Homo sapiens: one gene and its partners. The protein of the gene in region 1 purifies or fractionates together with the protein of each later gene. This does not show direct contact. Each region holds a gene or a part of one and is shown in the gene's direction. Other genes may lie near its edges. The genes, in order: PCDHGB5, CYP51A1 and SPECC1.

What was found.
Region 2: the proteins of PCDHGB5 (region 1) and CYP51A1 purify together in Homo sapiens (co-immunoprecipitation; 2 studies listed by BioGRID and IntAct, with this or other methods). This does not show direct contact.
Region 3: the proteins of PCDHGB5 (region 1) and SPECC1 purify together in Homo sapiens (co-immunoprecipitation; 2 studies listed by BioGRID and IntAct, with this or other methods). This does not show direct contact.

The regions. Positions count from the first base shown.
Region 1 is NC_000005.10:141,400,819-141,404,571, forward strand, and holds part of PCDHGB5 (protocadherin gamma-B5 isoform 1 precursor), read left to right. Parts: intron 1-1,959; exon of another isoform or gene 1,960-2,134; coding exon of another isoform or gene 2,135-3,753. Other genes in the region: PCDHGA9 (protocadherin gamma-A9 isoform 1 precursor), read left to right, coding at 2,135-3,753. UniProt on the Homo sapiens protein: Potential calcium-dependent cell-adhesion protein. May be involved in the establishment and maintenance of specific neuronal connections in the brain.
Region 2 is NC_000007.14:92,113,736-92,117,488, reverse strand, and holds part of CYP51A1 (lanosterol 14-alpha demethylase), read left to right. Parts: intron 1-276; coding exon 277-445; intron 446-3,645; coding exon 3,646-3,753. UniProt on the Homo sapiens protein: Sterol 14alpha-demethylase that plays a critical role in the cholesterol biosynthesis pathway, being cholesterol the major sterol component in mammalian membranes as well as a precursor for bile acid and steroid hormone synthesis.
Region 3 is NC_000017.11:20,313,290-20,317,042, forward strand, and holds part of SPECC1 (cytospin-B), read left to right. Parts: intron 1-686; coding exon 687-776; 3' UTR 777-3,753.

The DNA.
Region 1 (3,753 bases):
CGTTGTCTCATTCTTTAACATGTTTATATTTTATTGTATGTAGATAAACCATTAAATTTAATGTATGTAATCATTTAATTCATCTTTTAAAGCAAAGAAACTGCTAGTAGATGTCTTTCTTCACTGATTTCACTGGTAGTTTTCATCTCTTTCTTATGTTCCTCATATATGCTTTCTTATTCCTACCTAATGGATTTATGATTTTTTGAATCTCCTAAAATTTTATTAAAAATACTATATGTTGGCTGGGTGCAGTGGCTCATGCCTGTAATCCCAGCACTTTGGGAGGCCGAGGCGGTTGGATCACATGGTCAGGAGTTCAAGACCAGCCTGGGCAATATGGTGAAAACCCGTCTCTACTAAAAATACAAAAATTAGCTGGGTGTGGTGGCGGGCGCCTGTAATCCCAGCTACTCAGGAGGCTAAGACAGGAGAATTGCTTGAACCTGGCAGGTGGAGGTTGCGGTGAGCCGAGATCACTCCATTGCATTCCAGCCTGGGCAACAAGAGCAAAACTCCATCTCAAAAAAAAGGAAGGAGAAGGAGAGGAAGAAGAAGAAAAATACTACATGTTATGTGTATGAGAGAGAAAGAGAGAGACTGATTCACTGAACTTAGAAGGTCCAAATCATCCAAATAATTTTCTAAGTTTATCCAGGTTTTCTTGGATGCAAAATCCTTTTCCACCTCTATATAATTACCAGAAGAAACTTACAAAAAAAAGGAAATGCTATTGCCTGAATTTCTCTTGCTCGGAATCCTGACATATTCTTGAAGAAGGGGAAAAAGACACCGGATTTGTCTTATCGTTTGGAGCTTTAAATATAAATGACTGGATGTTTTCTCAACATCCTTGTAGGATGGAAGGTGAATACAGGATTATTCCATTTTTAAGACAAAAACTACTAGTCTTGTGTACATACAAAGCTCCCATTACATGGTATAAGTCTTTTGCTTGGTTTCCCTTAGTATGTGATTCAGTAAATGGGTTCCTTACAAAGTGCTGAGATTTCTTATAATACCACTTACTTTTAACCTTTCAGTAGTTTTCTTTGTTGTATATTTTGTGTTCTTTTTCCCAAATTATTATATAAGTTTAAGTGATGCTTAGAATAATGTTTAAGACCACTTTAAAATTGCATAATTTATTGATGAAGGATTAAAATAGAAACTTGCTTTTCAGTGTATATGCATTTGAATCATTGAAACACAGTCTGTGCATGCATTACATATTCACATTAAAAAACTAAGCATTTTTGAAATAGCAGAAAAGTTTAAGCAATTACAAAAATGTGAAAATTTCCAACTTTAATCCTGTTAATATTTAGCAATATTAGGCGAGAACATCTGTAACTATTGCTGAATTAATATTACTTTTATAATACAAAAATTTAAAATAAACGTTTTTCCAGGAATTTTATCATCAAAATAAACCCCAGAAAATAATTTCAAAGTGGATAATCTATCCTTATATATGTATTAATACAATTATATATTTTACATTTACAAATATATAGGTATAAAAATTAAAAATGAATGTACTTCCAAACAAGATTGCACATAAAAATTACTTCAGAAAATTGTTAAGATACACAGAAAAAATTGAAGCATCATAAAAAGGAAATTATAATAGTTTACATATCTAGAAATAGAGTGCAAAGTTCTACCAAGAATAAGAATAAATTAATATTAAGCAATGGTTTGTGATTTTATAATACACTTACAGAAATTTTATTCCACTTTATTTACAACTCAGATATCTAAAAAATAGATTGCTTTTGAAATACAAATGCAAGAAACAATTGGAGAAATCTAAAATCATAATTAGAAGAGAGTAGTGTTTTCTTTATCAGCCATCTGATATAATGTTACACATCAGTGGGTGTAGTAACGGCTTAGGACTCTGAGCGCCGCTGTTGATCAACTCTAAGCGAAAATCAGGACTCCATCCGGATTTCCAGTTCTGCGGCTACACAAAACCCGGCAGATACCACAAACCTGCTCCCAGGCTGCAGCAAAACTCAGCCTCTTTCTTCTAAGGAAAAGATCACCATACTTTGCAGGGTGGAAGAAAGAACCTGATGAAGCAGCGCGCACAGAGATCCTTTTGAGAAAATTCCAAAGCGAGGCAGCAATGGCAGCTCCAACCAAATGCCAGCTCCGCGGAAGATTAGTCCTGCTATGCTCGCTCCTGGGGATGCTATGGGAGGCCAGGGCCAGTCAGATTCGCTACTCAGTGCCTGAAGAGACAGAAAAGGGCTATATTGTGGGCAACATCTCCAAGGACCTGGCTCTGGAGCCCCGGGAGCTGGCGGAGCGCCGAGTCCGCATCGTCTCTAGAGGTAGGACGCAGCTTTTCTCTCTGAACCCGCGCAGCGGCACCTTGGTCACCGCGGGTAGGATAGACCGGGAGGAGCTCTGTGCTCAGAGCCCGCGGTGTCTGGTGAACTTTAAAGTCCTGGTTGAAGACAGAGTGAAACTGTACGGAATAGAAATAGAAGTAACTGATATTAACGACAGCGCCCCAAAGTTCCAGGCCGAAAGTCTGGAAGTAAAAATTAACGAAATCGCGGTTCCTGGAGCACGTTATCCACTTCCAGAAGCTATTGATCCGGATGTTGGCGTGAACTCCCTCCAGAGCTACCAGCTCAGCCCCAATCACCACTTCTCCCTGAACGTGCAGACTGGAGACAATGGAGCCATAAACCCAGAGCTGGTGCTGGAGCGCGCCCTGGACAGGGAGGAGGCAACTGCCCACCACCTGGTCCTCACGGCCTCGGATGGCGGCGAGCCGCGTCGCTCCAGCACAGTGCGCATCCATGTGACAGTGTTGGATACAAATGATAATGCCCCGGTTTTTGCTCAACGGATTTACCGAGTTAAAGTCCTTGAGAACGTGCCCCCAGGCACCTGGCTGCTTACTGCAACAGCCAGCGACCTGGATGAGGGAATCAACGGAAAAGTGGCATACAAATTCTGGAAAATTAATGAAAAACAATCTCTGCTATTCCAGCTTAATGAAAATACTGGGGAAATATCAACAGCAAAAAGTCTAGATTATGAAGAATGTTCATTTTATGAAATGGAAATACAAGCTGAAGATGGTGGGGGATTGAAAGGGTGGACAAAAGTGCTCATTTCGGTGGAAGATGTAAATGACAATAGACCTGAAGTGACCATTACATCTCTGTTTAGCCCAGTGAGAGAAGACGCACCTCAGGGAACAGTAATTCTTCTTTTCAATGCTCATGACCGAGACTCCGGGAAGAATGGTCAAGTTGTCTGTTCTATCCAGGAGAATCTATCTTTTACATTAGAAAATTCAGAAGAAGATTATTACAGATTGTTGACGGCCCAAATTCTTGACCGAGAAAAAGCCTCAGAATATAATATCACGGTGACTGCAACAGACAGAGGAACTCCGCCCCTGTCCACAGAAATTCACATCACCCTGCAAGTGACTGACATCAATGATAATCCACCTGCTTTCTCTCAAGCCTCCTACTCAGTCTACCTCCCGGAAAACAACGCCAGAGGTACTTCCATCTTCTCCGTGATTGCCTATGACCCTGATAGCAATGAGAATTCTAGAGTTATTTACTCCTTGGCAGAGGATACCATCCAAGGGTCTCCTCTCTCCACCTATGTCTCTATTAACTCAGACACTGGTGTGCTGTATGCTCTGTGCTCCTTTGACTATGAGCAGTTTAGAGATTTGCAAATGCAGGTGACGGCAAGTGACAGTGGAAGCCC
Region 2 (3,753 bases), on another chromosome or scaffold:
CAACGCTGGCTCACTGGAAATCATCTTGAGTTAAAATAATTTTTAGTTTGCCTATTATCTAGCCAGTTTTTAAATATATGTACAGATGGTTCTTGATTTATGTGATTCAACTTATAATTTTTTGACTTTATGATGGATTTATCAGGATGTAAACCTATCATAAGTCAAGGAGCATCTGAGTATCCCATGTATATTCATGCTTTATTACACAATGATCTGATTATTTGTCAGCACATTTTTAAATTCTCTAATGAAATGTGTGGCTTTTGTTTATAGACTGTGGCAGGGTATACCATTCCTCCAGGACATCAGGTGTGTGTTTCTCCCACTGTCAATCAAAGACTTAAAGACTCATGGGTAGAACGCCTGGACTTTAATCCTGATCGCTACTTACAGGATAACCCAGCATCAGGGGAAAAGTTTGCCTATGTGCCATTTGGAGCTGGTAAGATGATTATATTTTAGATTGGAAATGTTTGTTCTGATAACATATTTGTCTCTGTCAAAATATTCCGAATTGTGTTTACAAATTATCTCTCCCTTTCCTCATAGGGACATTTTTGCAAACTTTTTTAGGAGAAGAATCTTTATAAGTTGGAGAAAAATATTTCCTTTGTACCAAATGGAATTGTTCCATAAATCCTTATATAATGCTTCACTACTTCCTAACCTGTCTGGTTTTATTAGGTCTAATTTTTATAGAACATCCTTGTTTTCCCTTACAATGGTATTTAAAGCTCTTTGTGGATTCTCTTTTAAAGAACCATTGGAGTCAGCACACCATTCAGGGAATAACAGATTACTAGCATTTCACAAAAAAGCAAAGGCAGTCTTTTAAAATTAAAGCTCTTCTCGATCGTTAGTCAACATTTTTGCTCTCTGAATATCCGTATGAGAAAATGGTCTTTAAATTTGGGCAGGTTGTGTGTAGGCTTGCAAATTTCATTTCCAGTAAGATCCTAAAATAATTTAGCTATACCCTTGTTTCTCCAGTAATTTCTCTGTCCATTGGTTCTCTGTACTGATTAAACTATATTCTATGCTTTAGTCTTTCCAAAGGGATCATTTAAATGACAGATGACTTGTCATTGGTCACACTTTTTCCACATATAAAGGAAAATATAAAGTCCTTTGGGAACTTCAGATCTTAACTTTATGTAATAAATTTAATACTGTGGTGTATAACACAATATATAAAAGAATCATAGTTTTTTTTTTGAGAGAGTCTTGCTCTGTCACCCAGTCTGGAGTGCAGTGGCACAATCTCTCAGCTCACTGCAACCTCCACCTCTGGGTTCAAGTAATTCTCGTGCCTTAGCCTCCTGAGTAGCTGGGATTACAGGTGTGTACCACCACGCTCAGCTAATTTTTGAGCTTTTAGTAGAGACTGGGTTTTGCCATGTTGGCCAGGCTGGTCTCGAATTCCAGGCTTGAAGCAATCTGCCCACCTTGGCCTCCCACAGTGCTGGGATTACAGGCGTGAGCCATGCCACCTGGCCAAAGAATCAGATTGTTAACAGATGGGAAGAGCATTAGTTCTGTAGCCCAAATTCTGCCCCAAAGAGGAATCGTTTCTAAACTAGTAATTATCTGGTTTCCACTTGAACTTTACTAGAAATGGGTTGTGGGTTGTTCAGTTACCTTTTATGATGGCTCATTCTATGTTTGGACAGCTGTCATTTTTAGAGCCTTATGTTAAAGCTGAAATCTGTTTCTTTTTAACATCTCATTTATAGTTGGTCCTAACCATAGTCTCTGAACTTATATTGTATGAGGTATTTGAGTACAGATATAATGTCTCCTCCATCTTTTTTTCAATCTTTGTGTTAGTTTCCTAGGGCTTCTGTAACTAATTACAATATGGGTGGCTTAAAACAATAGAAATATATTCTATCACAGTTTTGGAGGCTGGAAGTGTGAAATCAAGGTATTGGCAGGACCGTGCTCCTCCTTAAGGTTCTACAGGAGAATCCTTCCTTGCATCTTCCTAGCTTCTGGTGGCTCTTGGCAACCCTTGGCTTGTAACTACATTGTTCCAATTACTACCCCTGTCTTCAACAGGCTTTCTTCTTGTTCATGTCTCTGTATCTTAACATGGCATTCTTATAAGGACACCAGTCATTGGATCTAAGTCCTACCCTAAGTCAGGGTCATCTCATCTTAAATAATTGTGTATATAAAGATCCTATTTCCCAATTAAGATCACATTCTAAGGTTCTGGATGGACTTGAATTTATGGGGGGATATATGATCTTACGTTAATCTTGTTAAATATCACATTACATGTCTCTAATTTCTTTACTCATTCTTTTACCTCGTAATTGTGCTGTTTATTTATGTTGGTGCATATAGTTCATTCATTTTCATAATATTACATTTTGTGAATCATCAGAATTTATCTACTCTTATGTTGATTCAATTAGGATACTTCTTGCTTGTTGCGATTAAATCCTTGGACTATTCTTCCTGTAAGCCAAGCTTCTCTTTAGTTGTTATATTTGAAATATGGACCAATTTGTAAATGCTCATCTTAAATGTCACTCCTAGAAATAAGTACAGTTATGGGCCAAGCAAGCACTGTGCTAAGCACTATCAGTTTAGGTTTTTTCTTTTGATGAAAAATCTTGCAATGAAATGCCCAAATCTTAAGTCAACATTCATTGAGTTTTGACAAATGAATAACCTTTAGTTTAGTCCAATGTATCAATCTTTTAAATGGTTATTGCTTTCTGGCCCTGTCTTAAAATTTTTGCTTAGCCCCTGAGTCATGAAGATATTCTCCTGTTCTTCTCTACTGAAATTTATGCTGTTAGCATCATGGTTTGTGACCCTTCTTGAATTAGTATTTGATTATGGTGTGACATAGGAGTTGAATTTCATTTTTCCCCCATGTAATATCTAGTTATTCCTGGACCTTATGTTGAAAAGACTTGCTTTTCCTCATTGGCTTGCTTTGGTGTCTGTACTGATAATCAAATAACCATAAAAATATTCTGTTCTGGGCTCTCTGCTCTGTTCCATTGATCTATTTGTTGATCCTTACCTAGTACCACTCTGTTTTATCTTTAGTCTTGAAGTCAGATTTGAAATCAGTTTTATGTCCTCCAACTCAGTTCTTTTTCCAAGATTGCTTTGGATATCCTAGGTCCTTTGCATTTTTATATGCATTTTAGAATCAGCTTGTCAGTTTCTACATGGGTGTGACTTTTTAGTATATTATTTTGGGTTCATTAAATCTCATTTTCTTCCATACATTTATAATGACATTTGAGGTTTGATTGGAAGGTTTTCATATTGACTTTTAACTAGGGCTTTCTTGGGACAAACAGAATATTCTACTATATTCCCAAACTAGATTACCATCTTATGATTCAAACTTTCCATATATTTAACCCAGATATATATTTTCAGAAAAAGTAATTGGAAAAGTTATGTGATCAGTCAAGTACTGTTTTCCTAAAATGTGGTATTGAAAATCTCCTGGAATTTTTAATAATTCATGTTGTTTTATGTGAAAAGAATGTCATCTTTTTATTATATTATCTGTACATTTGCTGTTCATCTAAAATGTAGATAATATCACCCCAGGCTAAAAAGGATGAGAAAGAATTTAAACTGATTCTTATAACTTTTTCTTTTTTTTAGGGCGTCATCGTTGTATTGGGGAAAATTTTGCCTATGTTCAAATTAAGACAATTTGGTCCACTATGCTTCGTTTATATGAATTTGATCTCATTGATGGATACTTTCCCA
Region 3 (3,753 bases), on another chromosome or scaffold:
GTAACAATGCTGGTAAAATAAATGGTTGCATTTGAAATTGGTTCAAGGCTTTTGTGATAATCCCACTCAGTAATTTATCTTGAGGGACTAGTTCGACAGAAGGAAACAATACTGCACAAAGATGCTGATTGCAGAGTCTGTGGTGGTCACGAGGTGAGCGTACACTGGATGCCATGTCCCTTGTGGACAGCAGTTTCCCTGGTGAGTGCACATTCACTAGAATGGCAGCCCGCACAGTGGCACAGCAGCACGGGGACCCGGGTGTGAAATGCTCAGCCCACGTAATGGCACAGCCCACGTAATAGCGCGTGCAGTGTGCTGGGAGTCTGGGGAATTAGAGGTGGATTCAAATGTAATTTAGAAACTTGGAAATCATTTTAATAGTGAAATTATGGGTGATTTTTGCTTTTTAAAACTTGTTTAAATGCTGTCATATGGTTAAAAGATAAAAGCAGTGGGAGGTCATGTTTTCCGTTTTTGGAAAGGGACAGTATCTCCTGAATAAGTGGGAGGAAAAGTCCTTTAACTCATCGCTTTCAGCACCACCTGTGCTGGCCTTCACGTTCTGTCTGTGTAAGTGGAGGGTTTCCAGGCAGTGTAAGCCCTAACCTGGACTGAAGTCCTTGAGGGGAAGGGGTCTGTGATGTCCTGCCTTGTGATCTGTCCCCCATTCCCTTCCCCTGCAGGAACTCAGCGAGATGCTGTACACAGACCGGCCCGACTGGCAGAGTGTGATGCAGTACGTGGCCCAAATCTACAAGTACTTTGAGACGTAACCCTGGAGGGCCTGGGGCAGCCACCATTGCCACCTACTGCAGCTTTTCCTGGAAGCGCCTGATTACTGTCCACTGACCCTGCTCTGCCCACCACCCAGCTGCCTAGACTTCAAAGACAGGCTCAATCCAAGTGGACCAACACCCAAATAAGAAACAGAGTGGGTCCCACGATGTACCTGTCTGAAATGCAAATGCAGCTGGACTGTAAATTGGGGACTCTTTGATCTCTTGTGGGATGCTTCTAAAGAGGGCAGCCTCCCTCCTTCCAGACCAAGACCCCACACCCAGGCTTGTTTTGCTGATTATATTGGGTGGCTGAACGAACACATTATCTGCAGAAATTCAGACAAAGAACATCTCCAAATCAGTCTTTTGGTTGCTGTTGTTAAAAATATCCCGGCTTTGCCTTTATGAAACCTTTGCCCTTGGCTGGGTGTGGTAGCTCGTGGCTGTAATCCCAGCACTTTAGGAAGCCAAGGCAGTAGGATCGTTTGAGCCCAGGAGTTCGAGGCTGCAGTGAGCTATGAGCATACCACTGCACTCCAGCCTGTGTGAAAGAGCCAGACCCTGTCTCAAAAAAATGATAAAACCCAAAACTTTGCCCTTGTGAACCCTCCCTTCCCCCCTCCCCCCCCAAAAAAAAACAACAAAACACAAAAAATAAACATTTGTTCCAGGGCAACCTGGAAACGTGCGTGCGCACTCAGCCTTTTGGGGAAAAATGGGAGTTCTAGGTAACAATGTTAACACCTGGAACTTGATTCACTTTTAGCTCTCACCATCCCTTATTTGATTTATTGTAGCAAAAGGAAAGCCTGTGAGAATGCAAGGGAGCCCCTGGCTGCTTTGCTGGAGTCCCTGGGAGGTGCCCCACACCTCTGCCACCAAAGTCTGTGTGCTCCTGAGCAGCTCGCGGCTTTCACAGTAGGGAAACCGCAGTCCTCGTCACCTGCGCCTTTGTCCTCCCATTCGTTTACCCTCCCGTTCACATCCACACAGGCTTGTACCCCACAGAACTTGACAGGAGGTCACATGTGTGAATGGCCTGTGTCTGCTTTACAGGGTTGAGCAGGCTGAGGGTGTGTGCCTCTGGGGATGCTGGGCTGACAGCAAATCCCAACAGTATTTCGGCTCTGGACTGATTTGGCCTTTAGTGCTTCCCCAGGCCTCTTTCATCGGCATGGGAAAAGCCCTTAGGGGTGGGCGGTGAGGGCACATTTATAACTAACAAAGAAGAATGCAGTTGCCCCAGCATCCTACTGGTCACCTTAAGTGGCAGCAGAGCCCTCCCCAGCGGTGCCCCAGTCCCTCAGAAGTGCTCAGTCCGGCCCGAGTGCCCATCTGGTGGCTCTGCCGTGTTCTTCTGGGCGGATCTGTGTGCACTACACAGCGAGTGAGGGCGTGGCTCACACAGTTGTTTGAGGGAAATGGGTAATGCCCATCCCTTGCTGTTTTAAGTGCCAAATAGCGTGTTAGCGCCCCTCCAACAAAGGATCATCCTTCCAGTGAGTCACCGAGAATGACAGTGACTGCCATTACTATTCAAAGTACATCTCTGATTGCTGATCTGAGCCACTGGTTCAGAGCCAGGTTCTAGAGGCTGCAGGTCCAGCCCCTTACCATTCCTGGAGAGGTAGGAGCTCAGTCCCTTCCTCCAAGCCAGACCTTTGCAGAGGTGGCAACTGGGCTGCACGGGTCAGCAGATCCCTGATTCTCAAGCCACCTTGAGACAAGAACTCCGCCCCCCTGTTAGTGCATCCCAGCTGCAGCTCTGCATCAGAACCTACAGTGGACCCTTTTGAAAACACTCTTGGCTGCCCTAGTTGGTTAACTTCAGAATGTCTGGAATGGGACCAGAGATGCAGTTCACATGTTTTGTAAGTTCTTTAGGCGACTGAAGCACAGCTGCTTGGAGAACCACTGAGGGGTGGACACCTTCCCCTGGCAGCCACAAGGCAGGCAGCCTGCGGGAGCTCCTGAGCAGCTGTTGGGCGATGGTCATTACATCACCCATGCCTTTGTATTTAAATGAAACTCGACACATAGAACCAATTCAACCTGAAAGTTACTACTTCTGCTGATTCAGGCACTTGTTTGAAGCATTTTTTTTTTATTAACCCTGTACTTCTTCTTTGCCCACCATTAAAGTGGGGGAAAGTAATATCCCAAGTAGTTGAGTTGAGCTGTTGGTTGTTAGATTTAAGCTGGAATTAGTCCAGGGTTTTATGTGGGGAGGCAGTTGCTGTCTTGGGATACCCGGAGTGGGAGTGGGTGTTTTCTGTGATTGGTTCTGTTTTTTATTTTTACTTATTTATTTTGAGATGGAGTTTCATCCTTATTGCCCAGGCTGGAGGGCAATAGCACCGTCTCAGCTCACTGCAACCTCCGCCGCCCGTGTTTAAGCGATTCTCCTGCCTCAGCCTCCCATGTGGCTGGGATTACAGGTGCCCATCACCACACCCAGCTAATGTTTTTGTATTTTTAGTAAAGAGGGGGTTTCACCATGTTGGCCCGGCTGGTCTCGAACTCCTGATGGCAAGGTGATCTGCCTGCCTCAGCCTCCCAAAGTGCTGGGATTACAGGCATGAGCCACTGAGCCCGGCTGTTTTTTTGTGTTTTTTTTGTTGTTGTTTGTTTGTTTTTTTTTTTGAGACAGAGTCTTGCTCTGTCGCCCAGGCTGGAGTGCCAGTGGCGCGATTTCAGCTCACTCAGGAGTGAGCCACCACACCTGGCCTGTGATTGGCTCTATTTTGAGTGATTACGTGTAAATCATCTAGAACCAGCTCTGAGCAATGGCGTTGCGGTGTCCCTCCCTCCCCGCTGGGGCCATACCAGCCCCTCTCCACTGGGAGCCCAAGTTGCCAATGACTGTGGCCAAACTCCCCCATTTTTGTCTGTATCCTGCTCTCTTTAGGTTAAAAAGAAGGAAAGAAACATGAAAGGCCATGTACAATTTATTTTTACAACTCCAGGAGTT